Linked DNA regions of Homo sapiens. The protein of the gene in region 2 interacts with the protein of the main gene of each other region in a biochemical or structural test. Each region holds a gene or a part of one and is shown on either strand. Other genes may lie near its edges. The genes, in order: FRMPD2, ATRNL1, FRMPD3, ERBIN, DLG1, SNTG1 and DLG5.

Region 1 (3,500 bases), about 67 Mb from region 2:
ACCTGTGTTCCCAGGAAAGTCTTATTTGGGGACACAACACAGTTATTTATATCAAATGAAAACTTTAAAAATGAGTTCTAACTGTCCAAGTTGAGAAAATCCAAATTGAAACAAACAACAAGAAAAGAAAAACTTGATTTTTTTTTCAGTTATTGTTCTGGGTGTGTTAAAAGAGTGGTTTTTGGAATAATCTTCAAATCTACTGTTCTCTACTTTTCAACTAAATCTGAGCTTTTTTTAAAAAAATTAATGTTATTGTTTGTTGTCTCTAAAACAAAGTGCACTTTGCCATTAGGCTTTATCTTCCCTTGTAACCCTCCCTCCAACCCTCTGTAACTGTCATTTCTGTTTTCTACATGAGGAAACAGATTCAGAGAGGCTAAGGAATTTCACCAAGGTCACACAGCTAGTAAGTCATGATGCCATTCATGCTCTGAGATGCCTGATTTAAGAAAGCCGTGATCTTGGCTTCTGCCCATACCCTCTACCATGCTGCTTGATTAGTTTCAGAAAGAAGCACGGAGACCCAGAGCTCACCAGAGCCCCATTGGAGCACCTTGACACACAGTCACTGCAGCCTCCTTGTTAACCGGTAAGCAGCAAGGCCTAAAGGGTGCTGTGAACTTGATGTGAGACATAGGTGTGGGGGCTATGGTACCTTATTTCTTTACTGATTATTAGTAAGAAGCCTCTTGCTCCTCCAGAAAATGCCAATGCTATTCCATTAACAGATGAAGAAGCCACATTTAAGCAGATCCGAAGCCAAGATAATGAGGGGCCTGGTGGCAGCTGTGCTGTCAGGGCATCCTGTTTCCTCTGGGAACCATACTCAGGCCGAGTGGCGGAGCAACAACATGCCTCAATATTGTTGCCATTATCCATTGCCATACCATGCTGCATAACAAGCAACCACAAAACACAGTGGCTAAAAGCAACAATTATGAATTTAGCTCATGATTCTGTGAGTTGGTCATTTAGGCTGTGCTCAGCTGGGAGGTCTTCTAGACTCTGCTGAAAGCCTTCCTGCCTTTTTGACTGTCTTCGGCTCGGCTATCCAGCTTCTCCTGCGGGGTGAATGGCCATTGTCTGGGAAGCTCTGGCTCTCCTCCACCAGCAGGTCAGCCTAGGATTGTTCTCGTGACAATGGCAGAACTGACAGAGAGGAACTGAGAGAGAGAGAGAGAGACAGAGAGACAGAGAGAAAGAGGAGAGAGAGGAGAGAGGACGGCAAGGTGCATAAAGCCTTCAGAACTGGTCTTCCATCATTTCCACTTCATTCTGTTGGCCATATCAGGCCTAAAGGCCAGCCCCATTTCAAGGAGTAAGAAATAGACTCCATCTCTTGATGGCAGGAGGCTGCAAAGTCGGATTGCAAAGGGTGCAGATCAGGGAGAAGAACTGTGGACATTTTTGCAATTGTCTAACTTAGGATGCTTGAATCAGATCAAAACCTAGATGGGCTCATATCTTCCTGGACCTGGAACGGTGTTTATTTTGAAGTTTGGGTGATTTATTTATTCACATGGTGACCTGTTGAGGGCTGTAACAGTGTCTTGTCATAGTTGATGTCAAATCCACAGCTGACGCCCTGATTGGATATCGTAGAGTTTATCTTGCAATACTTTTTCCTGCCATTTAAAACTTTATTTTCCCAATGAAAACAATTTTTACCCCCTGATTCCTTAAACAATATATTTTATTGTCAAAATATTTTGAACAACATATCAAATTCTAAAGAAGCCAGAACTGCTGCAGTCCCATGACCTGCTGGGTGGTTGCTCTAGACCTGGGGTCCTGGCACCACAAACAGAGAGGTAAAGCCATGGGGTGGAGAAGTCGACTGTGCCTTGTACCTCCAACCCCACCCCACCCCAGTGGCTGTGCAGCCTGGCTTCTCCAGGCCTCAGCTTCCCCCACTTGAAAAATGGATATAACTCCCCCATAGGTGGGGGAGAAGGTGACATGCATCAGTGGGTGCACCCTGCCCAACTGAGCCCCTGTGCGGGTGGTCTTTCATGCCATGGAAGCCCTTGCCATTGCTAAGTGCTTCACCCCTTCTCAACCCCTGGCCAGCGCTCTTCCAGGAGCAGATCCCCAGGACCAGCAGGCGGGCCGGAGGCTCAGCTCTGGATCTGTGCACTCGGCAGCAGACAGCTCATGGCCAACAACTCCTTCTCAGAGGGGTTTTCTGCAAAGAAGGAGCAAGGTAAGCAAAATAAGGCTGAAGGACACTCCTCAAGGAGGCTTGAGCAGGGAGCTGTGGGTGGCTGGCACGGTGGCTGAAAATGGGCAGGGTCTTCTAGGGGACAACTTCCCTGGGCTGAGGTTTATAGGATTGGACTAACATAAACCTGAAATTTGCAACTTAGGGCATAGGCATTCACTGAGTAGCCTCACTGGGGAAGGCTCTATGGGGGACGCTGTATAAGATGTAGGGTTAAAGATGCTGGGTCCCACCCTAGAGGAAGCCACCGGTGCGCAGGGTGGTGGCAGAGCGTGCTACATGATTCGAGAACTGACAAGGCAGAATGTGTTTGGAAGGGGCCTTCTGCACAGGTGAAAGGTGGGAGCATAGATCCAGGGCCGCAGGGAGGGCTTCTATAGGGAGGAGAGAGTTATCCTTCCAGCTGGCTAACCCTAAGAGGGTAATAGGGTTAGGCGGAATGTGCCTGTCTGTCTGTCAAAGTTAGTTAAGGTCCCTTGACTGAGCTGAGCTCCAAATAGCCTCAGGATGTCCCTCTTCCTGTTTGGCCTATGGTTCCCATACGCTGGCCTGGCCCGCACTGTCCTCCTTGGCCCTTCTCTGGCCTCCATGAACTTGGTGGAGGGCGTGAAGAGGGCTTCTGAGAGGCTTTGTCCACCTCCTTTGGCTTTTCTTCCTGATCACTCACTAGAGATACTTCTATTGGGAACTCTTGCAGGACACAAGTCACTTCTGGGCTGGAATTTTGGCCTCTTGGGACAAGAGTCCTGCTAGGTACCCTTGGGGGCACTATAGAAGCCCTACCCAACCCTATCTCTTGCTGGTTATATGACTCAGGTGAGCTTCTTAAGCTTTTTTTTTTTTTTTTAAAGGTGAGGAGCCTCAACTTCCTCACCTGTAAAATGGGTTGAGAATATGCACCCCACAGGGGGATAGCTGGGTCTAGCTAGTGATGGGTATTGCAGTGTTTTCTGGGTCAAGTGTAATACAAACACACTGAGAACAAGAGGTGCCCACTAAGCTATTGATTCAACATCTAGAGCTAGAAAACATTTCAGCTCATCTAAATCTAAAAGTATTTTTGTTTTTTCAAGTATTTTTATTGCATTTATATTTATATTATACATTTTATACTTTTGATACATACAAAAGATGGAGTTCTGTGTAAATTATGAAACTTATAATTCACCCCGAACACCCCTGTACCCAACTTAAGAGCCAGAATGTTGCTGATACCCTATACCCACCTGTAAGACTTCTGCTCCAAGATGTACCATTCAGCTGGGGCCTCAGCCCA
Region 2 (3,500 bases):
TAGTAGAAAAGAATTCTTCTTGGTAAAGTACATGCAAATAAACCTATGAAAGGTTTATTTGAAGATAGTAGCTTGTTTTACCTGGCATTTGAAGTAATAACACAGTGGGAAAGGCTTTAACTAGAAAATCTCACTTCACTAACTATCTTGAAAATCTTTTTCTAAACTGAAGGATAGCAACCTTACAAACAGACATTAAAAATGATTGATCAATCTTGGTAAGCAGGTGTCAAAATTAATTGGTTGGCTCCATGGTAACTTAGCTTTTTTTCTACTATAGGGATTTCGCCAGGGAATAAAAATGTTCTTCAAATGTTTCTTGAGGATAGAAGATTGATAGTTGGGGGAAGAAATGCAGAAGCAAATATAGTATCAAAAGTGGTACTTCAGTTCTCTTAGCATTGATTCCAGTCTTCTGTTTCCATTTGAAAAGAATAAAGCACTCAGAATAACAAGCCATTCCTTCCTTACACAGGTAAAACAAAAGGAACATTGATTTTTCACCCAAAGCTAGACTAAAGGACTTGGGATTGAGAATAGGAAAATATATTTGAAATATAATAATCAAAGATACAGACTCTAATTCAAGTTGTATTTATTTGAATAGTTCAGTGTAATGTTAAGCAAGAAAATATTCTGCTATAATCTATTTGAATGACGTTCTCTTTTAGAAGGGAGCCCTTGAGAATTAATTTTGTAGAGTAGAGATTTATATAAATTTATATAAATATAAAGAGTATTGCTCTTTATATTAGTCAAATATAAAGGGGTATATTTTTACCCCTCTTAGGTTAGTCAAATTTGGATACTTCATTTCACGCATTTAAAATGGAAGTATGCTGGGTGCCGTGGCTCAGGCCTGTAATCCCAGCACTTTGGGAGGCCGAGGTGGAAGGATCCCTTGAGCCCAGAAGTTTGAGACCAGTCTGGGCAAGATAGTGAGACCTCATCTCTACAAAAAATATTTTAAAAGTAGCTGGGCATGGTGGCACACACCTGTGGTCACAGCTACAAGAGAGAGTGAGGCGGAAGAATTCCTTGAGCTCAGGAGGTTGAGGCTGCAGTGAGCTGTAATCACGCCACTGCGCTCCAGCTTGGGTATCAGAGCGAGACTCTTCTTAAAAATTTATATATACATATATGAAGCATTCTATTTGTAGTGACAGCAAAATGAAGATGTAATGATATAATGTCAGGAATTAGGTTGTTATTATAGACAAAAACGGGCAGAATAAAGTGTGTAAACTCTTCCCCTAAGCTGTTAAAAATATATGCATATTGCCTGGCTTGGTGTCTCACGCCTGTAATCCCAACTCTTTGGGAGACCGAGGCGGGCGGATCATGAGGTCAGGAGATCGAGACCATCCTAGCTAACACAGTGAAACCCCGTCTCTACTAAAAATACAAAAATTAGCTGGGTGTGATGGCACGCACCTGTAGTCCCAGTTACTCAGGAGGCTGAGGCAGGAGAATCGCTTGAACCCAGGAGGCGGAGGTTGCAGTGAGCATAGGTCGCGCAACTGCACTCCAGCCTGGGCAACAGAGCGAGACTCCGTCTCAAAACAAAACAAAAATAAACAACAACAACAAAAAACAAATATATATATATGCATATGTAAATACATATATATTTGGAATCCTTTTTACTTGTAAGGAAACTGACAGTAATTATAAACTTAAACTGAATGTTCCCTGTCCCTAAGACTTCTTTATTTCAAAGTTTTATTTTAATGGATAATTTATATCCATGGATTATTTTTACATTATTAAAGTGTATAATCACACAGTAGGAATTTAAAATAATTTAAATTGAGTGTTTCTTAGATTCTAAATTGATAAGGTAAGTTACTTGTAGAAGCATAGTAGCATGGTTTTCAAGAACACGTGTCTGCATGATTTGGCCCCTTTAGCTGATTAGACTCAGGCCTCCTTTCCTCTGCCCTGACTGGCCTTTTGAAGTTCCTTGAAAGTGTCACATTCCTTTTGGCCTTAGTGCATTTTATACACGTAACTGTGAACTCTTTCCTCTCTGGTCTTTGCTTGGGTGATTACTGATCATCCTTCTAATCTTAGCTTAAATACTAGTTTCTTTTTTTTTTTTTTTTTTTTTTTTTTGAGACCGAGTCTGGCTCTGTCACCCAGGCTGGAGTGCAGTGGCGCAATCTCGGCTCACTGCAAGCTCCGCTTCCTGGGTTCACGCCATTCTCCTGCTTCAGCCTCCCGAGTAGCTGGGACTACAGGCGCCCGCCACTACGCCCGGCTAATTTTTTGTTTAGTAGAGACGGGGTATCACCGTGTTAGCCAGGATGGTCTCGATCTCCTGACCTCGTGATCCACCCGCCTCGGCCTCCTAAAGTGCTGGGATTACAGGCGTGAGCCACTGCGCCTGGCCACTTAAATACTAGTTTCTAAAGGAGGCTTGTCTGACTCTTCACACTAGGTTACCCCTTATATACTGCCCTAATAGCACTATTTTTCCTTCTTAGTATTGTCAAAAATGAGGTGTTTAATTATAATTTTGATAGTTATTTAAACAAAATTTTTAAGAGATTGAGGTATAATTGTCAAACAGCACAATTTAAAATGTACAATTTATTTAAATTATACAATTTGATAAGTTTTGTCATATGTATTTGCATCTGAAACTGTCACCACAATCAAAATCATAAAAATACCAATCACGCTAGAAAGTTTCCATGTGTTTCCTTTGTAAACCCTCCCTTTTCTAGTTGCCAATTCCTGTCCCAGGGCAACTATTGATCTGCTTTCTCTCACTATAGATTTGTTGGTATTTTCTAGAACTTTTTGTAAATAGAATCATACATTATATACTTCTTTTTTGTCTGGCTTCTTTCACACAGCGTGTTTATTTTGAGATTCATTCATGGTGTGTTAGTAGTTTATTCTACTGCCGAATAGTGTTCCAGTGTCTGGATACACCATAATTTGTTTATCCATTCAACTGCTGATGGACATTTGGATTGTTTCAAATTTTTGGCTGTTCCTTATAAAGCTGCTACGAAGTTTCATGTGGAAGCCTTTTTATCTTTGTATGGTCATATGCTTTCCTTTCTCTTGGGGAAATAACCTGAGAATGGCTGGATCATATGGGTAGATATATGTGTAACTGTTAAAGAAACCGACAAACTGTTTTCCAAAGTAGTTGTATCATTTATGTTCCCACCAGCAGTGAGTCAGTGTTCTATCTAGTTAATTTCACATCCATACCAATACTTGGTATGGTTAGTCTTTTAAATTTTTGTGATTCTAATAAGTGAATGGTATATTATTGGGTTTTAGTTTGCATTTCCCGAATTACTAATGATATTGAGTATCTTCTCATGTGCTTACTTGCCATCCGTATATCTTCTGTAATAGGCATTTATTCAAACCTTTTGCATGTTAAAAAAATTTTCTTACTGATTTTTGTGAGTTCTTTACATTTTCTGGATTACTAGCTTCTTATGAGGTATATCATTTGCATATATTTTCTACCAGTC
Region 3 (3,500 bases), on a different chromosome or scaffold from region 2:
CTGAGCATGTATCATGTGGAAAGCACTGGACCCTAGGGAGGCACATGTTTTCCATGGAAATGACTAGGCTGGTGTGGTGGCTCATGCCTGTAATCCCAGCGCTTTGGGAGGCCAAAGCAGGAAGATCACTTGAGCCCAGGAGTTTGAGACCAGTCTGGGCAACATAGTGAGACAGCGTCTTTACTTTTAAAAAAATAATTTAAAAAAAATGTAAAAAAAGGAAATGTACCTCTGTACCTCTAATTCATCAGTCCTAGGGTGTGGAATTCTGGGAGACAAAACCCCAGCCCAGGGGAAAGTGGGAGAGTTGGGGGCACAAGACCTGACCTGGAGAATGGGTCACTGGGTGGAATGGTGAGGGATCAGGTTACTGCCTCCACTTTCTAGTGCTCTGAGGGACTCCCACTGTCTGCTTTCCCAAGCCCCGCAGCAGCTTCTTAGCTTTGTAAGATTCAATCTGCCTGTGCTTCCTGCCCTAGAAGCAGGAGAGTGGTGAGACGCACTAGAATCAGCATGCAGATGTACATATGGGACGCAATCGCCCCATACATTCCTCCCATTCCAGATTTCTTGCATTACCAACTAGCTTCTCTTTTAAGATGCAAATTTCCCCGGAGAGTTAAGCCATTCCCACCTTGCTGTGAATATTTAATCAGATTGTTTTCTTCTCAACTGAGAGCATCAGTGCTCACCACCATCTCCTCAGGTAACATTTTTTTCGAGGCACCCCAGTGCTTGGGTTGGAAATATGAAGATGAAGAGGGCCTGGTCTTGGCCCCTGAGTCAGGCACAGTCTAATGGGGAAACACATTAGTCAGTCCCAACACAGTGCATTAGGCACAGGTGCTCTGGAAGCACAGAGGAAGAACACTAAGCCCAGCCTGAGGGAGGTGGAAAAGGCCAGAGCTGGGTCTTGAAAGACAGATAAGAGTTTGTCTAGATTAATCCGTGGGCATGGGTCATGGGAGGAAGTGTTTCCCAGGCAGAGAGATCCATCTGTACAAAGGCCCAGAGATATGAGAAACCATGGTGCAAGGACAGAAATGCAAATCATTCAGCCTAAGCAAGTACAGAAAATGCAAGCTGTGTGCAAGGGGTGAAGATAGGGGCAAGAGAAGAGGCCAGAGAGGTTGGCAGGAGCCAGTTCATGGAGGGCCTTGTGTGCCAAGGAAAGAGGTTGTACTTCATCCTCTAGGCAGCTGGGAGCCATTGAAGGGTTTAAAGCAGGGAGCTGATGTGATTAAACTTATGTTTTAGGATGCTCCCTCTAACAGTGTGGAGGCACTTGAGGGAAAGAGGGAAACAAGTGTCAGTCCTGAAGGTAACCTGGCTGTCACCCTGACACAGGTGGGAATGTCAAGGCAATGACTGGCTAGAGAAGAGGGATGGATAGATTGGAAAAGGAGCTAGGGGGTAAGTATCCAGATGATCTGGTAACTGCTGGCTCTCACATGAGGCGATTAAGGAGGAGTCCAGTGTGACTCACAGGTTTCTGGCTTGATTGCCCAGGGGATGCTGATATAGACCAGGAATGCCTGAAGTGCAGGCTTGGGACTTAGGAATGCTTAGTATGAACGGTATTGAGTGGGACCCCCAGCTGGGGAATGACCAGCATGTACATGACTCTAGGGGTCTGAAACATCTCAGGAGAGAGGTATGGATTAGGTGGGGCGTCAGTTAGTTGGAATTAAACCAAAAACAAAATGAGTAAGCTGGATACTTTAGGAATGAAGATCAGGAGGTAGGACAAGATTTTAGAAAGGGAGATGAGATACTAGAGGGAAGAGCTGTCCAAACTAGAACCTTGCTGCTGTTTTAAGAAGGGCATCTTCACATCTCCACAGTGTCACTTGCTGACTGGTGCCTGTCCTAGGATGTTGAGACTCCTCGTTGAGAACATGGGTTTGCTTTTCCTGTGCCCCTCAGGCTTCTCATATTTCTGGATGGGTTTTTCCACAGGGCTCTGCAATTCAGGCAAAGCTCCAGTATCTACGAATTCTGAATGAACTTCCTACCTTCACGGGCGTTTTGTTCAACACTGTAGGCCTGGTCAGTGGCGCAGGATTGGGGGATGTGGGGAGGGAGCCCCTTGTTGGCTCTTGTCCTTGGGTGTGGGGGCAGGAGGGGCAAATATTTCTAAAGGCCTTCGTTCCTCTTCCTCCTCCTTCTACCTCTTACCTCCCTGGCCCTGCCTCTGCCAAAATGATAAAGTGGGAGGAGATATTTGTTTTGAGTATCCCTCCATGACCTTTTTTTGTTCCTCTTCCTCGATTTGGGGGCGCAGCATACTTTTTCCATAAAGGGCCAGATAGTAAATATTTTAGGTTTTGCAGGCGGGCCATACTGGCAACTGTGGCAACTACTCAGCCCTGCTGTCAGATTATGAAAGCAGCCACAGACAATGCATAAACAAATGGGTGTGGCTGTTTACCAATAATTATTTATGGATACGAAAATTTGAATTTCATGTACTTTTCACATGTCACAAAACATGCCTCTTCTGATTTTTTTTCCCTACCATTAAAAAATCTAAAAACCATTCTTAGCTCCTGGGCCATAAAAAATAGGTGGTGGGTGGTATTTGGCCCATGGGCCATGGTTAGGCAACCCCTGCTCTATTTCATTTTTGTTCCACATACTCCCACAGTCCCCTACCCTAGGTTTCCTGAGTCCTTCTACTTCTCCCCCTGCTTGCTCAGCACCTTTGCTGCAGGAACAAGGCTCTGGGGCAGGGCACAGCTGGTCCCACCCTAAGACTGTGCCCCAGGCTAGTTTACCCTGGTGAAAGGAAATTCAAATCACCTTGCTAATTGGATCCAGGTGCTTGTCTTGCTCCCAGGAGCACATTGTCAGCTAGTGCGGCACATCGGTGGAAAGCCACTTATCAAAGTGCCTATAGACAGGCACAAGAGGTTCCTCAGGGTGATGCTAATACCAGGGAATGGGCCTCCAGACGACCCAAGCTTGATTGCTCCAAGGAATCTGTCAAGACCTCTTAAGGGAATCCAGTCCTTCAGGCCGAGAGGTAGCCATTTACATACTGGGATTTGCAGAACACTGAAAGCCCACTGTCCCCTCCCACCTCCTTCATACACTGTCAAATCTTTCTTCCACCCACCTACCACTGCTAAAATTTCTATTGGCCATACCTGCTGGAGTGCCCATTAAAAGGCAAATCTCTGCTTAACGAGGGAGGCTGCCATGAAGTACCCAATCAACCCTCAACACCTTAGGCAGAGTTACTGTGCCAGTTTAGTTTTTGGCCTGGGTGAGAAGTGCAAGTTTGAGTGGCTGTTGGTGGGGGGAGGGTAAAGACCAGACACAGGATGCCGCCTTCTCAGGCAGAGCACTGGGTGGGGGCCTCAAATGGCCTGCAGCAACAAATGGAAAGCCCCTGGGGCTTGGAAGGGGAGGGTGCTCCAAAGGCCCCCAAACAAACCTCACCTACTTCACGGTTTTGCTTGAGCTAGCCCTTCTGCCTGTGCACTTTACTCAACCTG
Region 4 (3,500 bases), on a different chromosome or scaffold from region 2:
GAATTCCCAAAGAATATGTCCTTTGTCACTTCTGCTATGCTACAATTAGTAGAACATCTTAGCTATATTACTGAATACATTTCTAATGGCATTTAAAAAACTACCTGGGAGTCTTCTTTCTTGTATTAGCATTTAATTTTGAATTAAAACTTGGTATCAAGTTTATTCCCTAAACTTTTTACAAATTACTAATGTTAATAGAGTCATTAGATTTTCTTTTTTTACTTATAGTTTATTGGTAGTTTGAAACAGCTCACATATTTGGATGTTTCTAAAAATAATATTGAAATGGTTGAAGAAGGAATTTCAACATGTGAAAACCTTCAAGACCTCCTATTATCAAGCAATTCACTTCAGCAGCTTCCTGAGACTATTGGTTTGTATTGCTTTCAAATTCATGTAATTTTTATTAAAATAAATTCGAGACTTCCACATAATCTCAAATTTCACTTGTTATGAGGTAGTTATACTTCGTTACCACAGGAACGGATTTTATTTGAATTTTTCCTGGTGTGATCAGTTGTACAGTTTGCTCCTTTGTTGACATTACTGTTTTTTATTTACTCTAAGGTAATCTCATTTTTATTTCTAATATATTTAAATTCTTTAAAATAAGTTAACTTATGCAAATTTGGCTTAACTGTTAGCTTTTATTGTCATAGCTTTTATTTTGGTAACTTTTTTCAGTCCTGTTTCATTACAGACACTCAGACAAGAAAACAGATCAGTTGAACAGATCATGAGAGATCTATGATTGAGTCTGTGTAGTTGCTTGTTCAATGATATGTCAATGGAATTGAATTATTTTGATGAAAGGACCCAAAACTTCAATCTTGACATCTTTTTGATGTTTTAATTTAAAAACCAAAAATATTTCTCAGTTAAATCACGTAGTGGTTTTAGCTAAAACTACATTTTTGTAAGTTTGTTACGATTCTACTCTTAGTCAACACTTTTTAAACTTAAAAAATATTTTACTGTTTTAGTATTTAGTATATATGGAATAGTTTTTTATATACCTGTTATGAACTACCTTCATACTACCATTTCTTTAGTCTATTAATTTAACAAGTTTGTATTGTCTGTCTTTTCTGTGCCATGACATTGTTTTTAGAAGCAGAGCTACAACAGTGAACAACGAAGACAAAAAAGTTCCTACTATCAGTATATTTTAGTGGGAGTTAATAAACAAATGTACACTATGTTAAATAGTGATGTGGATGAAGATTGAAAGGACAGGATGAGGGAATAGAACATTGGGATTGGGAGTGGTATCTCTTTTAGATACGTTTGTTAGGAAAGTTGTTTCTAATTCTTGTCAGATGTAGTATGTCTCACACTGACTGTTGGTGGACTTGCTTCTATTTTAAGCTGAAAAATTGTATGTTGTTTCTTCCCTCATTAGGTTCGTTGAAGAATATAACAACGCTTAAAATAGATGAAAACCAGTTAATGTATCTGCCAGACTCTATAGGAGGGTAAGTTTTTTGTGAATGTATACACCCTCGAAGATTTTACTTTCAGTTCAGCATGCCATACATATTTTCAGGTATTTGCATAAATGACCTAAAGATTTTGTAAACATTTAAGTAATTAGTATACAGGTTGAGTGTGTTTATGATAGACAAACCTACTTATTGGTGAAGTTTAGCTTTGTGAAATGGTTTCACTAGGTTTTCAAAGTCAAGTTCAAATGTTTATATGTTCTGAAATTTTGGATTATATATAGGAAATCTTTAACAAATAATATATATTTCTTTTTTTAAATTAAAGGTTAATATCAGTAGAAGAACTGGATTGTAGTTTCAATGAAGTTGAAGCTTTGCCTTCATCTATTGGGCAGCTTACTAACTTAAGAACTTTTGCTGCTGATCATAATTACTTACAGCAGTTGCCCCCAGAGGTAATGTATTTTAGATTTGTTTAGATTTTTGTCTTTTCATTTTTTTCTGATTATCTTCATTATAGCTATTTAGTGTGGCTTCATTTATTTTCTTTCTAAAATAGTTTTCAAGTTATTTATTTTCTGAATAATTAGCTATGTTAATTTAGAAGAGGTTCTTAAATGCTTTCTTATGTACATAAAAATTAATTAAAAAGAAAGTCTAGTCATTATTTCTTCTATAAATGTGAAGTATTTTTCATAACTTTCAAAAATGATGTTTTTTATATGTTGATCAACCTGTAGGCCAAATTTTTTGATACTCAGTTTATATTTCTCTTTCAGATTGGAAGCTGGAAAAATATAACTGTGCTGTTTCTCCATTCCAATAAACTTGAGACACTTCCAGAGGAAATGGGTGATATGCAAAAATTAAAAGTCATTAATTTAAGTGATAATAGGTTCGTAATACTATATTCATCAGTTGGTTTATAGGAGACATTGGTTAGATGAAATTAAGTTTCATATGATATATAATAGAATAGCTAGTGCTTGTTGCTCTTTAAATATACATAGTAAGTTCTCAGTGTTATTGATAGGCTCTTGGAAAGTGTGACTTTCAGTGAAACAACATACAATGAAATCACTTCTTTCGTTCATCAGTGTTATAAGAAAATGACATTATTTGAGAACCTGCCATACACAGTTTTGCTAAAAGTTTTGGTTTCCAAGAACCTATCAATAACTTAAATGAGGACTTAACTGTATATATTTTTTTCTTTAAATACAAAGAGTGGTCTTATTTTATCTGATGTTAATTTATCATACGGTGGTTGTTACTGTTCATTTTGGGTTGACTTAGCTATATAGTCTTTATTCTCTTCTTACAGTTACCTTTTATTTCTGAAGTCACATCTTCACCTGAATATTGCTATTTAACAAAACAATTTTGGAATGTATCTAGTCTGTTGCTAATATTTTCCTAGGCAGAGATCTGGTTTCAACAAAGCCAAGGTGCAGAGTAAATTGATCACTAGGGTTGTAAATTGGAACAATGTTTAAGTTAAAAACAGAATGTCCATACTTTTTCGTGAGGTAAACATACTAATGATGATTAAACAGCATTTGTAGAGTGTTTTCACTTTTTGCTTTCATAGTGTCTTGTGAAGTCTTCAAAACAGCTCTATGAAATAGTATAATAGTATTCCCATTTTATGTAGGAGGGTTTTAAGACTCAGATTTAAGGTGACTCACGTAGCTTGTAAGGTAGAGCTTTAATTTAAACTCAATTTTCTGACTAATTATGATATTCTAACTTCTGTTTTATTTAAAAGAACCACTGCTTTCTTAAGTCACGTTTCAGCCTTTAATTCCTACGGCCCACAGTGGGTTGCTGAAAGAAAGGCACGGAAGACTAGTTAGGTATAAGATAGCAAGGCTGAAGTAGATAATTCTCTCTTAAATAAGATATTTTCATTTAGTATTCTAATGAGTATTTATAGTTGACCCTTGTATTTGTGGGTTCTGCAAGTGTGGATTCAAACAACTTCAGATCAGAAATATTTGGAAAAAAATTGTGTCAGTACTGAACGTGTACCAACTTTCCCATTGTTATTCC
Region 5 (3,500 bases), on a different chromosome or scaffold from region 2:
CTAAAACAGAAAAGAATGTTTATGCCAATGTATGGATTTAAAAGACCTACAGCTACATACATATAATATAAACCAATTGCAAAATTCATGGTAAAATTGTTATAGGATCTTGATAATTAAAGAGAAAGTCTTCAAATACATTATCCAATATTGATTGCTTTCATTGAACCACTTGGGTTAACACAGTCTTTTCTAATTTTAGGCGTGGGGGTGAGGGGGGATGTGTGTGTGTTAGTTTAAAACTCCTAGAGTTTTTGGCCGGGCGCGGCGGCTCACGCCTGTAATCCCAGCACTTTGGGAGGCCGAGGCGGGCAGATCACCTGAGGTCAGGAGTTCGAGACCAGCCTGACCAACGTGGAGAAACCCTATCTTTACTAAAAATACAAAATTAGCTGGGCATGATGGCACATGCCTGTAATCCCAGCTACTTGGGAGGCTGAGGCAGGAGAACCGCTTGAACCCGGGAGTTGGAGGCTGCAGTGAGCTGAGATCATGCCATTGCACTCCAGACTAGGCAACAAGAGCGAAACTCCGTCTCAAAAAAAAAAAAAAAAAAAAAAACTCTCAGAGTTTTTAACTATTTATTTCTTTTCACTGGATTCAGATATTCAGATATAATTTGTAGACTCTTTTATTTAGAGTATTTCCTAAGCTCCGAACCTTTAATTTAACCTTTAGAAGCTTTAACTTCTTGTGTTTTTAAGGTCAAAGCAAATATATTTATCTCCTTTACTATCACTGTTGTTTATTTTCTTGGAAGGATTTAGTTTTATCTAAAGCTCTTTTTGACTCACATTAAATTTATTATTTTTTTACAAAGTTGAGTTAGTGAATTTTTCATCAGTGAAATAGTAACAGTAGTTTTACCTTTGCATTTATAATTTTTAATTTTAAGATGTAATTATTTTAAAAATAAAATATACTGTATTCAGTATTGTAGTTGGTGGAACAAAAAAAGTAGCATGTTTTTAATAGTAACAAATTACCTAATACGTAGATAGATGATAGACAGATCTGCTCATTAAAGCATTAATCTTTAACAGATTTAATAATTCTTAGATTCTAAATAAAGGAGTAGCACATAGCATCACAAATGAAGATTTTTAGATTTGATTATCTATAAAATATAATATTGATTATATAGCCCATTTGTATTTTGTTTTACATTTAGCAAACTCACTTTTAAGACTTTATAATTTGACACTTTTTTTTAACTAAATCTTGCCATAAAGTACCTCTTTCCATATCTTTGCCATTTTCTCAGGAAAGTTCTAGTAATGTATATGTTGTTTATGAAGAATTAGATTAGCATCAATTATCTTTACACATTTTTCATCTGTGCCTTCACTTTCTAATAGGTGGTCAAGAAGAATACGTCTTATCTTATGAACCAGTGAATCAACAAGAAGGTTTGTGAAGCCTATTGATGTTTTATAACCTTCTAGAAGAATATACTTTTTAATTTGGGGGAAAAAAATTCTCATACCCCAAAAAATGTTGTATTAAAATTTTTTTTTACTACATATACATGTAGAAATTTACTACATGTGTTTTATGAAACATAGTTTACTCCACAGAATATTAGAATCTAGTCATTTCATACTGACTTTTATATTTGTGTTTTATTTCCCAAGCAACTTTGTTCCAGTGTTCTTGTTAGCATCACTATCTTCCAAATAACCCTTTTTTGAAAATCTTGGAAGTATCTTTGAGCCTTCTCTGTTCCTCCTCCTCCTCCTCATCCAGTTAGGTTCCAGGCACTGTTTATCCCACTTCTTTCTTATTTATGACCTTCTTTTCATCCCTTCTATCACAATGTTAGTTCTCAGTCTCACTACCAATCTCCATTATTCCAGCATGATCCCAGACCACCCAGAGTTTACACTTCTGTTAGATCATCTTTCTAGAATGCTACTACTGGGATTATATCACTTCCTACATCCAGTTTCTGTTCTGCCCTTCTTTGCTCTGCTTCCTTACAATTTCTACTTCAAAGCCATCTGTAAAACACTAGACTTTATTCTGTCATTTGCAATGTAAAGAAACATTATCTGCGAAAACACCAAATTTAACTTGATTGAATTATCAATATGACTTCTAGCAGAAGACTAAGTAAAGTTTAAGATCTGAGTCAAGATTATAAAAGAGCAAGTTACGCATCTTTGGTTGATGGTAGAGTGAGATGGAGAGGGAAGAAAAAAATTAGTCATAACAGTTAAGGATATTTTTGTTCGCTGGTGAAATAAAATACATTGATATTTGTTGAATGTTTATTCCTTTTAACATGCAGTTTATCTTTATAGTTAATTATACTCGACCAGTGATCATATTGGGACCTATGAAAGACAGGATAAATGATGACTTGATCTCAGAATTTCCTGACAAATTTGGATCCTGTGTTCCTCGTAAGTAAACCAAACAAAAACATTTAATTGTTACTCTTAACATTTCCTGTCACTGTGTGTGGGAAAAATAGATATAACCATTTTTTAATGGTTTGTACTTATTTTATCAGTTACTCTTCCATCCTCCATATTATTGTCCTTTCTCAGATTTAAATTAATCTGTTCTGTTGAACTTTACAAAACGATGTAAGTAGAAAATGGATTTATTGTGGTTTTTTTTTTAATATTAAACACTTTCCCAAGTTTTTTTCTGTTAAAGATACAACTAGACCAAAACGAGATTATGAGGTAGATGGAAGAGATTATCATTTTGTGACTTCAAGAGAGCAGATGGAAAAAGATATCCAGGAACATAAATTCATTGAAGCTGGCCAGTATAACAATCATCTATATGGAACAAGTGTTCAGTCTGTACGAGAAGTAGCAGAAAAGGTAAGCATCAGACTAATCCCAGAATATAGCTTCTAATCAGATATGCCTTTGACAGTATGCAAGACTGGTAGGATAGATACAGCACTAATTAGTTTTGTTAATGTGATGAATTTGCTTACCTAAATAATTAATTTTCCATGGCTTAGGAAAGTGCATACAAGATAAAACAGGTAAATAAGGTAAACAAAGAAAGTGAAAATAGAAATGATAACATGAATGTAAGAGAAGTTATTTTCAGGTCATTTGCTAGAGATAGACCTTTTGTTTAGGCCTAGCTCTCCAGCATATATTAAAAGGAGATAAGGGCCGGGTGTGGCAGTGCACCCTTACAGTCCTAGCTACTGAGAAGGCTGAGTTGAGAGAATCACTGAAGCCTGGGAGTTTGAGGCTGCAGTGAGCTATGAGCATGCCACTGAACTCCAGCCTGGGCAACAGAACAAGACCCTGGCTCTTAAAAAAAGAAAAAAAAAGAAAGATCAATAAATCTAACCACTTAAAATTTTTAAAAAACTTTTTTTATGGCCAAAGACTTTTTCCAAAAACTATTGGAAAACACCATTAACAATGTCAAAAGACAACTGACAGAAAAAATTTGCAAGAAAAGGGCTAATATTCCCAATATATAAAGAACTCATAAAAACAGGGAACAGAGACCAGAAACCC
Region 6 (3,500 bases), on a different chromosome or scaffold from region 2:
CTGTTGCTTACATTTGAGACTCAAAAGAGAAAGGTGAGATGGGATTACATAATCTAGAAAATGTAAAGTATATATAGGACCAGAGGATAATTTAAAATGAGCCCTGGAATCCATTCAATTGCCTTCTTCCAAAATGTTATAAAAACACTTCTTGATTAATTTTTGCATAGACTATATAAATATTACTTGTATATTCTAATGTAATTATTCATACCATGAAATCGTATTGGATTTTAATGCTCACAGTTTGCCTTTGGAGTTATTTACTTGGGTTTCAATCAAGTTCAAACATTTATCAAAAAATATAAAAGTAAAAAATGACTATTGCTAATATTTAGTAATTGGCTGTTTTTGACCACTTAAAGATTTATAAATTCCAAGCAGCTAGCCTGCTTACTCACCTAGTTCTGTTAAGCAACACAAAAGCCACTAGGAAAGAAAAAAGCATATTGTAAGCTAGAAATTATTTCCATAGTAATCTCACCTTCCCAGAAATCTGTACAGTGTGTTATAGAATAGAATTCAAATGGAGAGAGATCTCTTATTTGGTGTTTTCTTCCTATTTAGCTTAGCAGAGTGAGCACATAGCATGTGTTGGAAGAGACAACATCCTGTGGTAAGAAACATGTTACACATCATGTTGTAGGGAAACAAGTACTACTTGACAGTCAAAAGATCAGAATTTTTTAACTGCTGGCCATAAGATCTTCTACAAGTCACTCAATCCACTGCAGCTGAATTTTTCTTCCTTAAATTTGGGGATTCTTTACTTTTCAATGAAGACACAATAATTTACATACAGCTGATACCTGAACACTCATGAGATAAGTGAATGATGCCTACTTTGTGGGATACTGGAAAGTCGAAATTCAATGATTTTGAGAGTGTTTTGGAAACAAGTGTTATATCTGTGAGTTATTATAAATAATTTCCAATAGCATTCATTCATTCGTCAAAAAAAATCCCACTAATTACTAAATAACAGGCACATCCCTTATACTTAACAACTCTCAGCATAGGGAATATAATACTTCCCTGATACTTCAGCAGTCATTTCCTTTACATCTCTTAATGGTATAAATATAAGTGATATTCAATGAAGGTGGACTTGGTTTCAAAAATATTTTATTACTCAGAACTGACACCACATTCTATATCAATTGGACAAACTTAGTTGACCTGAGTCTATTTCAACAACTTTCATTTTGACCTTCAAAGAATCTATCATGTCGTGTCATAATTTTCTAGTTTATAAAGGAGGATTAATGTTTGTCATTAGTGATATTGATAAGGAAACTCATACGATGAAATACACTTCAAAACTCCATATCCTAAAACATACAGAAAGCATTGTGATTTGACTGCTGGCTTGTGAGCATGGAGTGAAATGTGGACAACATGCGGGCTGATCTAAGGGGCTAGCCTGGAAATGCTGTTAAGATGTTGTTTTGATTTAGTCGAAAGCCTAGATTTTATTCATAGGCCTCTTTAGGACATCTCTTTAGAAAATCGAATAAGCAGTATTTCATTGCTTATTTGCTTTTCTTAGTCGGGTTTTAAACGTCACTATGATTTTTTCAATGTAATTTATCAACATTTGGTCTGTATAGATTTCTAGACTATCACTAAAAATATACTGACAGTATTCTTAGGAAATATAAGTCAATGTTTGGTGTTACAGTTATTTCCAGCATTGTTTTGTGGTTAAATTATATAATTGCACCAGCGATAAAAAATTATATCATCACTTACTTAGTAATATAATTCAGATTTTTTTTTGTCAAATACACACACACACACACAAAAACCCAGAAACAGTCAAAAACATAAAATGAAAAAGAACTGAGAGTAAGAGGTCATTAAAATAATGTCTTGAGGCCAGAGAATTTATCTTTGAATTATCCTTAAATTTTCACCGTGAAGTTTCTTCAGCACATTCTACACACTGAAAGAGTCAGAAAATCATTTTGGGTCTCCTGAATTTGGTCTTCAATTTGTCAGCAAAGATAAAGTGATCATGTTATATTTTTTTTCAAAAAGAGTGTCATTAAATCAATTCATTTGAATACTTGCTTATTATCACTTCATCATATGTAATGTACATACTTGAAGATATTTTTAAAATTAAAAATTGTGAAGTAATTATATGCTCTATGTTTAACAAATTTACTCACAATTTCGGTCTAAGATTTAGTTTTTTAAAAGAATAAGTGCTTGCCTGGTAAATTCACTAAATAAGCTAATAGAAAATAGAAATCTTTTAGAAATGGTGCCAAAATTTGAACAATAATGTGTTACTTATATAAAACTATGAAAAGGCCAAGTACAGTGGCTCATGCCTATAATCCCAACACTTTGGGATACCGAGGCAAGAGGATCACTTGAAGCCAGGAGTTCAAGACCAGCCTGGGCACCACAGTGAGACCTCGTTTCTTCAATAGAAAAAAAAAACATAAAAAATAAAAAAATAATATCTGGGTGTGGTGAATGTGCCTGTAGTCTCAGCTACTCAGGAGGCTGAGGTAGGAGGATCACTTGAGCCCAGCAGTTTGAGGCTGCAGTGAGATATAATCACATCACTGCACTCCAGCCTGAATGAGATTCTATCTCAAAAAAATATATATATTAAAAATAATAAATTTTATTTGAATCTTTTCAAGGGGTGAGAAATAAGTATGTGAGATTAAGAAATTTAGATCATAGATGAGAAAAGAGTATTTTATGGTTAAAAATGCATCCAGTACACACAAAATCTGAGGTTCAACATGGTTTGTCATCAATTGGTTGTGTGGACTTGGGTAAATCACTTTATCTTAATTTAACTGCTCAGCTATATCCTTGGTCCTATTGGTAAATCATTATTATGTCCATGAGAAAATAAACAATGTCTATGTTTAGTTGAACTCATAAACTTTCCTTCCACATCTGTCATGCCATTCTTCTTGAAAATGTTTCCGTGCTCTCATGGTGGAACATACATGGGATTTAGAATCAGACTTAAGTTCGAATCCTGTTATAGAAATGGCATTAATGACAAAAACTTGGGCAAGGAATGTGAAGTCTCTAAGTCTGATGTCCACTGCAGTGTGTTGCTGGGAACAGTTAATGAGCAAATTGTATACAATGGCTAGTACATTGACCGGGATTTGTTGAAGCTGGTGAGTGTTATGACTTAGCCTGTTAGACTAGTCTATGCACATGGCTCTGATCAACTACCGCTCTCTCATTTCTCCAGATAAATCCCCCATGCTTTATATTCTCTTCCAAACATACTATCCTCATCACCACATAGTTCTTTTGTTAATGCTTTGTTCTAGACTTTCCCTTTTCTGTTTTCTTATTCAAACCTATATCTCTTTGCATAGATTGTAAATTCAAATGCCCTCAGGGTGCAGGCAGTTCATGTAAGGAGGGAGGCTAGCCAGTGAGATCTGCATCACACTGCAGAAAGTGAGCCCGTCAAGAGTCCTCGACTCAGCTCTGCTCAGTTAGAACAAAAC
Region 7 (3,500 bases), about 37 Mb from region 2:
GAGAGGCTGTCTCCTCCTGAAATGGGGTGTGGAAACAGATGGCTGTGGTCCCCCTGACCAGCAGGGGCCCATGGTAGCCAGGAGTTGTGGCCCCGGGGGTGGATTCTCACTCAAAGTGTTTGGCTCCCTGTCCAGGAGCAGATGCTGTACACCTGTCTGTATCTGCCCCTGAGCTGTGGGTTGAAGGGCAGAAAAGAAGGGGAGGCATGCCCTGCAGTGCTGCGCCACAAGCTCAGCAGGAGAGATGGGATGCACAGGCAGAGGAAAAGAGACAGGATGCTCACAGCTTCCTGAGGTCAGATGCCTTTGGAGAGGGCCCCTGAGCTGAGGACAGGTGGAGGGGAGAGGACAGGTGGATGTCATGGGTCCAGGCTTCTAATGTGTCTGCTCTGCTCAGGGCACAGGGTGCAGGGCTATGTGACCTGGTCCCCATTTATAGCTCAGATCTAGTTGCCACAGGAGTGGGGGTGGCTCTGGGTGGCTTCGTACTGCTCCTTATCCCTCCTGTCCTCCGCCTCCAGCTCACACCTGGACCCTGCCGGTACCCACTCCACTCTCCAGGGCAGTGGCACCACCACCCCGGAGCATCCATCTGTCATCGACCCACTGATGGAGCAGGACGAGGGGCCTAGCACCCCCCCAGCCAAGCAGAGCAGCTCCAGGTCAGCAGACGTTGCTGTGAGCCTTCCCTGTGTCCGCTTCGGCTGGGTGGGGCTGAGCACATTCTCCAAGTGGCGTGGGCACTGGGCAGCTGGCCTCATGTGCTGCAGGCCGCACACCAGGTCTTCAGGAGTTGGGCCGGGAGCACGGCATTCCTTTTTTCCTTCCCTACTCTCTCTTTTCCTTTCTCTTTTTCTCCTGTTTTCTATTGACTTGTTTTTTCCCCTGCATCTTCTCTTTCTCTTCTCCTTTTCTTGTTCACTCGCTTTCTGAGTCTGTCTTTGGACACATTCCCACAGTCATCACCCGGCCAGGCCCTGGGCTCTGGCCACCCACAGCAGTGCTTCCCCCAATGAGGTGGCAGACCAGTGCCGGGCACGTGCAGCAGAGTCAGGGTGCTGGGAGGGCACTGCCGGCCGCCGCAGAGCAGGCAGGAAGATCACTGGAGTGTGGCAGGGGAGGTGGCAGCTGGATTAAAATGTTCAGGACAGGCAAGAGCCAAGAGTGGGCATAAAGAGAAGTCCAGGCCGAGGGAGCAGCAGAGTTCAGGAGGAGGAAGGAGCTCCATGGGAGCTGCACAGCGTCCAGCCTGGCCTGGGGCTGCAGGGAGGGCCATCCAGGCCATGGTGTGACATGATCACTCTGCCGTCCTGGAGGAGCTGTGTCTCCAGCACTGAGAGGCCTTCACCAAGCCCTGGGCAGCATCTCACAGAATGAGGCCAGCTCTGCATTCTCTATACCAGAGTCTGTCACATTGGAACTTACCTGCTGCAAGGTTTTCCTCCCGGGCTGGCATCTCCCCTGAAGCCCCCTGTATCTGTTTCCATCGCTGTCCCATCTCACTCCCTCCATGTGTTCAGCAGCTTACTTTCAGCTTCCCTTCCTTGATTGTAAGTGCCTTGATGGCAAGGGGCCCCTCTTCACAAGTTAGCAGTTGCTGGTCTATAGAAGCTTCTTCGTAGACATTTGCTGAATACATTGCTGTGCTCTGGACAGTGAGGCCAACTTTACCTTTCCTTAGGAAGTACTAAGTTAGGAAAATGAGTGTGATCCACATGGGAGGGAGGCCATCCTGATCTTTAAGGCATGAGATTGATAGCCGGGCCTGGGAGCAGGGGCACTGATTTACGGTTTTGACTGCCCCCGCTAACTGGCTTTGGACCTGGGGTCTTGCCTTCATCTCCAGTGCACCTTAGCATCCTGTCCCGAACGCCGAGCCAGTAGAACTAGAGGCCACCTCTCAGCTCCCTGTGGTTCTGAGACCCCAAGAAGCAGGCAGAAAGCGGTTAGGGCATTGGCCACTGCTTTGTCTTTTTGTGCCTCCTCTTTGTGCACAGTTGAGGAACTTTGTTTTTTTCCTGAAAGGATTGCGGGAGATGCCAACAAGAAGACCCTGGAGCCACGCGTTGTCTTCATCAAAAAGTCCCAGCTGGAGCTTGGGGTGCACTTGTGTGGTGGGAACCTGCATGGGGTGTTTGTGGCCGAGGTGGAGGATGACAGTCCTGCCAAGGGTCCTGACGGCCTCGTGCCAGGGGACCTCATCCTGGAGGTGAGTTCTGAGCTGCTGAGCAGGCCAGGCCTCCATCTACCTGCACAGTGGGCTTGCTGCCATCTCAGGTGGCACCAAAGACGGAGGAGTACAGCCTCTCATCTGGTGAGCCAGTCAGGGCTGACTTTTGTTGTTGTTGTTGAGGCAGAGTCTTGCTCTGTCGCCCAGGCTGGAGTGCACTGGCACAATCTCAGCTCACTGCAACCTTCACTTCCCAGGTTCAAGCGATTCTCCTGCCTCAGCCTTCCGAGTAGCTGGGACTACAGGCATGTGCCACGATACCCGGCTAATTTTTATATTTTCAGTAGAGACCAGTTTCACCATGTTGCCCAGGCTGGTCTCAAACTCCTGACCTCAAGTGATCTGCCCGCCTCGGCCTTCCAAACTGCTGTGATTATAGGCATGAGCTACCGTGTCCAGCCTCAGGATTGATTTTTTTTTTTTTTTGAGACAGAGTTTTGCCCTTGTTGCCCAGGCTGGAGTGCAGTGGTGCAATCTCAACTCACCACAACCTCCGCCTCCCAGGTTCAAGCGATTCTCCTGCCTCAGCCTCCTGAGTAGCTGAGATTACAGGCATGCGCCAACACGCCCAGCTAATTTATTTTTGTATTTTTTGTAGAGACGGGGTTTCATCATGTTGGCCAGGCTGGTCTCAAACTCCTGACCTCAGGTGATCCACCCGCCTCGGCCTCCCAAAGTACAGGGATTACAGGCGTGAGCCACTGTGCCTGGCCAGGGTTGATTTTTAATCCCTGTAAACCCAGAATCCTGCCAAGCCCTTCTGAGGAGGTCCCTGTGAAGCCAGGCAGGCCATTGAGGGAACCTGAGGGCAGAGCCTTGGCTCAGGCCCTGGGCATCAGGGGGTGCTCGCCCTCAGGTGATGTAGCTGCAGGACTCTGTTCTGATGAGAGAGGATGGTCTTTCTCTGTGGTCTCCTGCCTCATGGGGGAGATGGTTTGTGAGAATATAAAGGCACAAGTTGGGCTGGGTTTGGTGGCTCACACCTGTGAATTTTAGGAGGCCAAGGTGGGAGAATTAGTTGAGCCCAAGAGTTCAAGACCGGCCTGGGCAACATAGTGAGACCCTGTCTTTACAGAAAACAAAACAAAAAAATTAGCCAGGTGTGGTGGAGTGTGCCTGTTGTCCCAGCTATTCTGGAGGCTGAGGTGGGAGGATCACTTGAGCCTAAGAGGTATAGGCTACTGTGAGCTGTGATTGCACCACTGCACTCAGTCTGTGTGACAGAGGGAGACCCTGTTTCAGAAAATAAATAAATAAAAGCACAGGCAAC

What was found.
Region 1: the proteins of ATRNL1 (region 2) and FRMPD2 interact in a test that uses a peptide from one of them, tested with the Homo sapiens proteins (one large-scale study listed by IntAct).
Region 3: the proteins of ATRNL1 (region 2) and FRMPD3 interact in a test that uses a peptide from one of them, tested with the Homo sapiens proteins (one large-scale study listed by IntAct).
Region 4: the proteins of ATRNL1 (region 2) and ERBIN interact in a test that uses a peptide from one of them, tested with the Homo sapiens proteins (one large-scale study listed by IntAct).
Region 5: the proteins of ATRNL1 (region 2) and DLG1 interact in a test that uses a peptide from one of them, tested with the Homo sapiens proteins (one large-scale study listed by IntAct).
Region 6: the proteins of ATRNL1 (region 2) and SNTG1 interact in a test that uses a peptide from one of them, tested with the Homo sapiens proteins (one large-scale study listed by IntAct).
Region 7: the proteins of ATRNL1 (region 2) and DLG5 interact in a test that uses a peptide from one of them, tested with the Homo sapiens proteins (one large-scale study listed by IntAct).

Annotation. Positions count from the first base shown.
Region 1 is NC_000010.11:48,236,697-48,240,196, reverse strand, and holds part of FRMPD2 (FERM and PDZ domain-containing protein 2), read left to right. Parts: intron 1-504; coding exon 505-592; intron 593-2,073; coding exon 2,074-2,206; intron 2,207-3,500.
Region 2 is NC_000010.11:115,096,365-115,099,864, forward strand, and holds part of ATRNL1 (attractin-like protein 1 isoform 1 precursor), read left to right. Parts: intron 1-280; exon of another isoform or gene 281-475; intron 476-3,500. UniProt on the Homo sapiens protein: May play a role in melanocortin signaling pathways that regulate energy homeostasis.
Region 3 is NC_000023.11:107,561,152-107,564,651, forward strand, and holds part of FRMPD3 (FERM and PDZ domain-containing protein 3), read left to right. Parts: intron 1-1,959; coding exon 1,960-2,049; intron 2,050-3,500.
Region 4 is NC_000005.10:66,024,075-66,027,574, forward strand, and holds part of ERBIN (erbin), read left to right. Parts: intron 1-231; coding exon 232-376; intron 377-1,405; coding exon 1,406-1,478; intron 1,479-1,773; coding exon 1,774-1,903; intron 1,904-2,227; coding exon 2,228-2,343; intron 2,344-3,500. UniProt on the Homo sapiens protein: Acts as an adapter for the receptor ERBB2, in epithelia. By binding the unphosphorylated 'Tyr-1248' of receptor ERBB2, it may contribute to stabilize this unphosphorylated state.
Region 5 is NC_000003.12:197,064,613-197,068,112, reverse strand, and holds part of DLG1 (disks large homolog 1), read left to right. Parts: intron 1-1,358; coding exon 1,359-1,409; intron 1,410-2,303; coding exon 2,304-2,405; intron 2,406-2,648; coding exon of another isoform or gene 2,649-2,662; exon of another isoform or gene 2,663-2,664; coding exon 2,665-2,837; intron 2,838-3,500. UniProt on the Homo sapiens protein: Essential multidomain scaffolding protein required for normal development. Recruits channels, receptors and signaling molecules to discrete plasma membrane domains in polarized cells.
Region 6 is NC_000008.11:49,914,407-49,917,906, forward strand, and holds part of SNTG1 (gamma-1-syntrophin), read left to right. Parts: intron 1-567; exon of another isoform or gene 568-616; intron 617-3,500. UniProt on the Homo sapiens protein: Adapter protein that binds to and probably organizes the subcellular localization of a variety of proteins. May link various receptors to the actin cytoskeleton and the dystrophin glycoprotein complex.
Region 7 is NC_000010.11:77,808,256-77,811,755, reverse strand, and holds part of DLG5 (disks large homolog 5), read left to right. Parts: intron 1-135; coding exon of another isoform or gene 136-172; exon of another isoform or gene 173-287; intron 288-521; coding exon 522-662; intron 663-2,025; coding exon 2,026-2,209; intron 2,210-3,500. UniProt on the Homo sapiens protein: Acts as a regulator of the Hippo signaling pathway.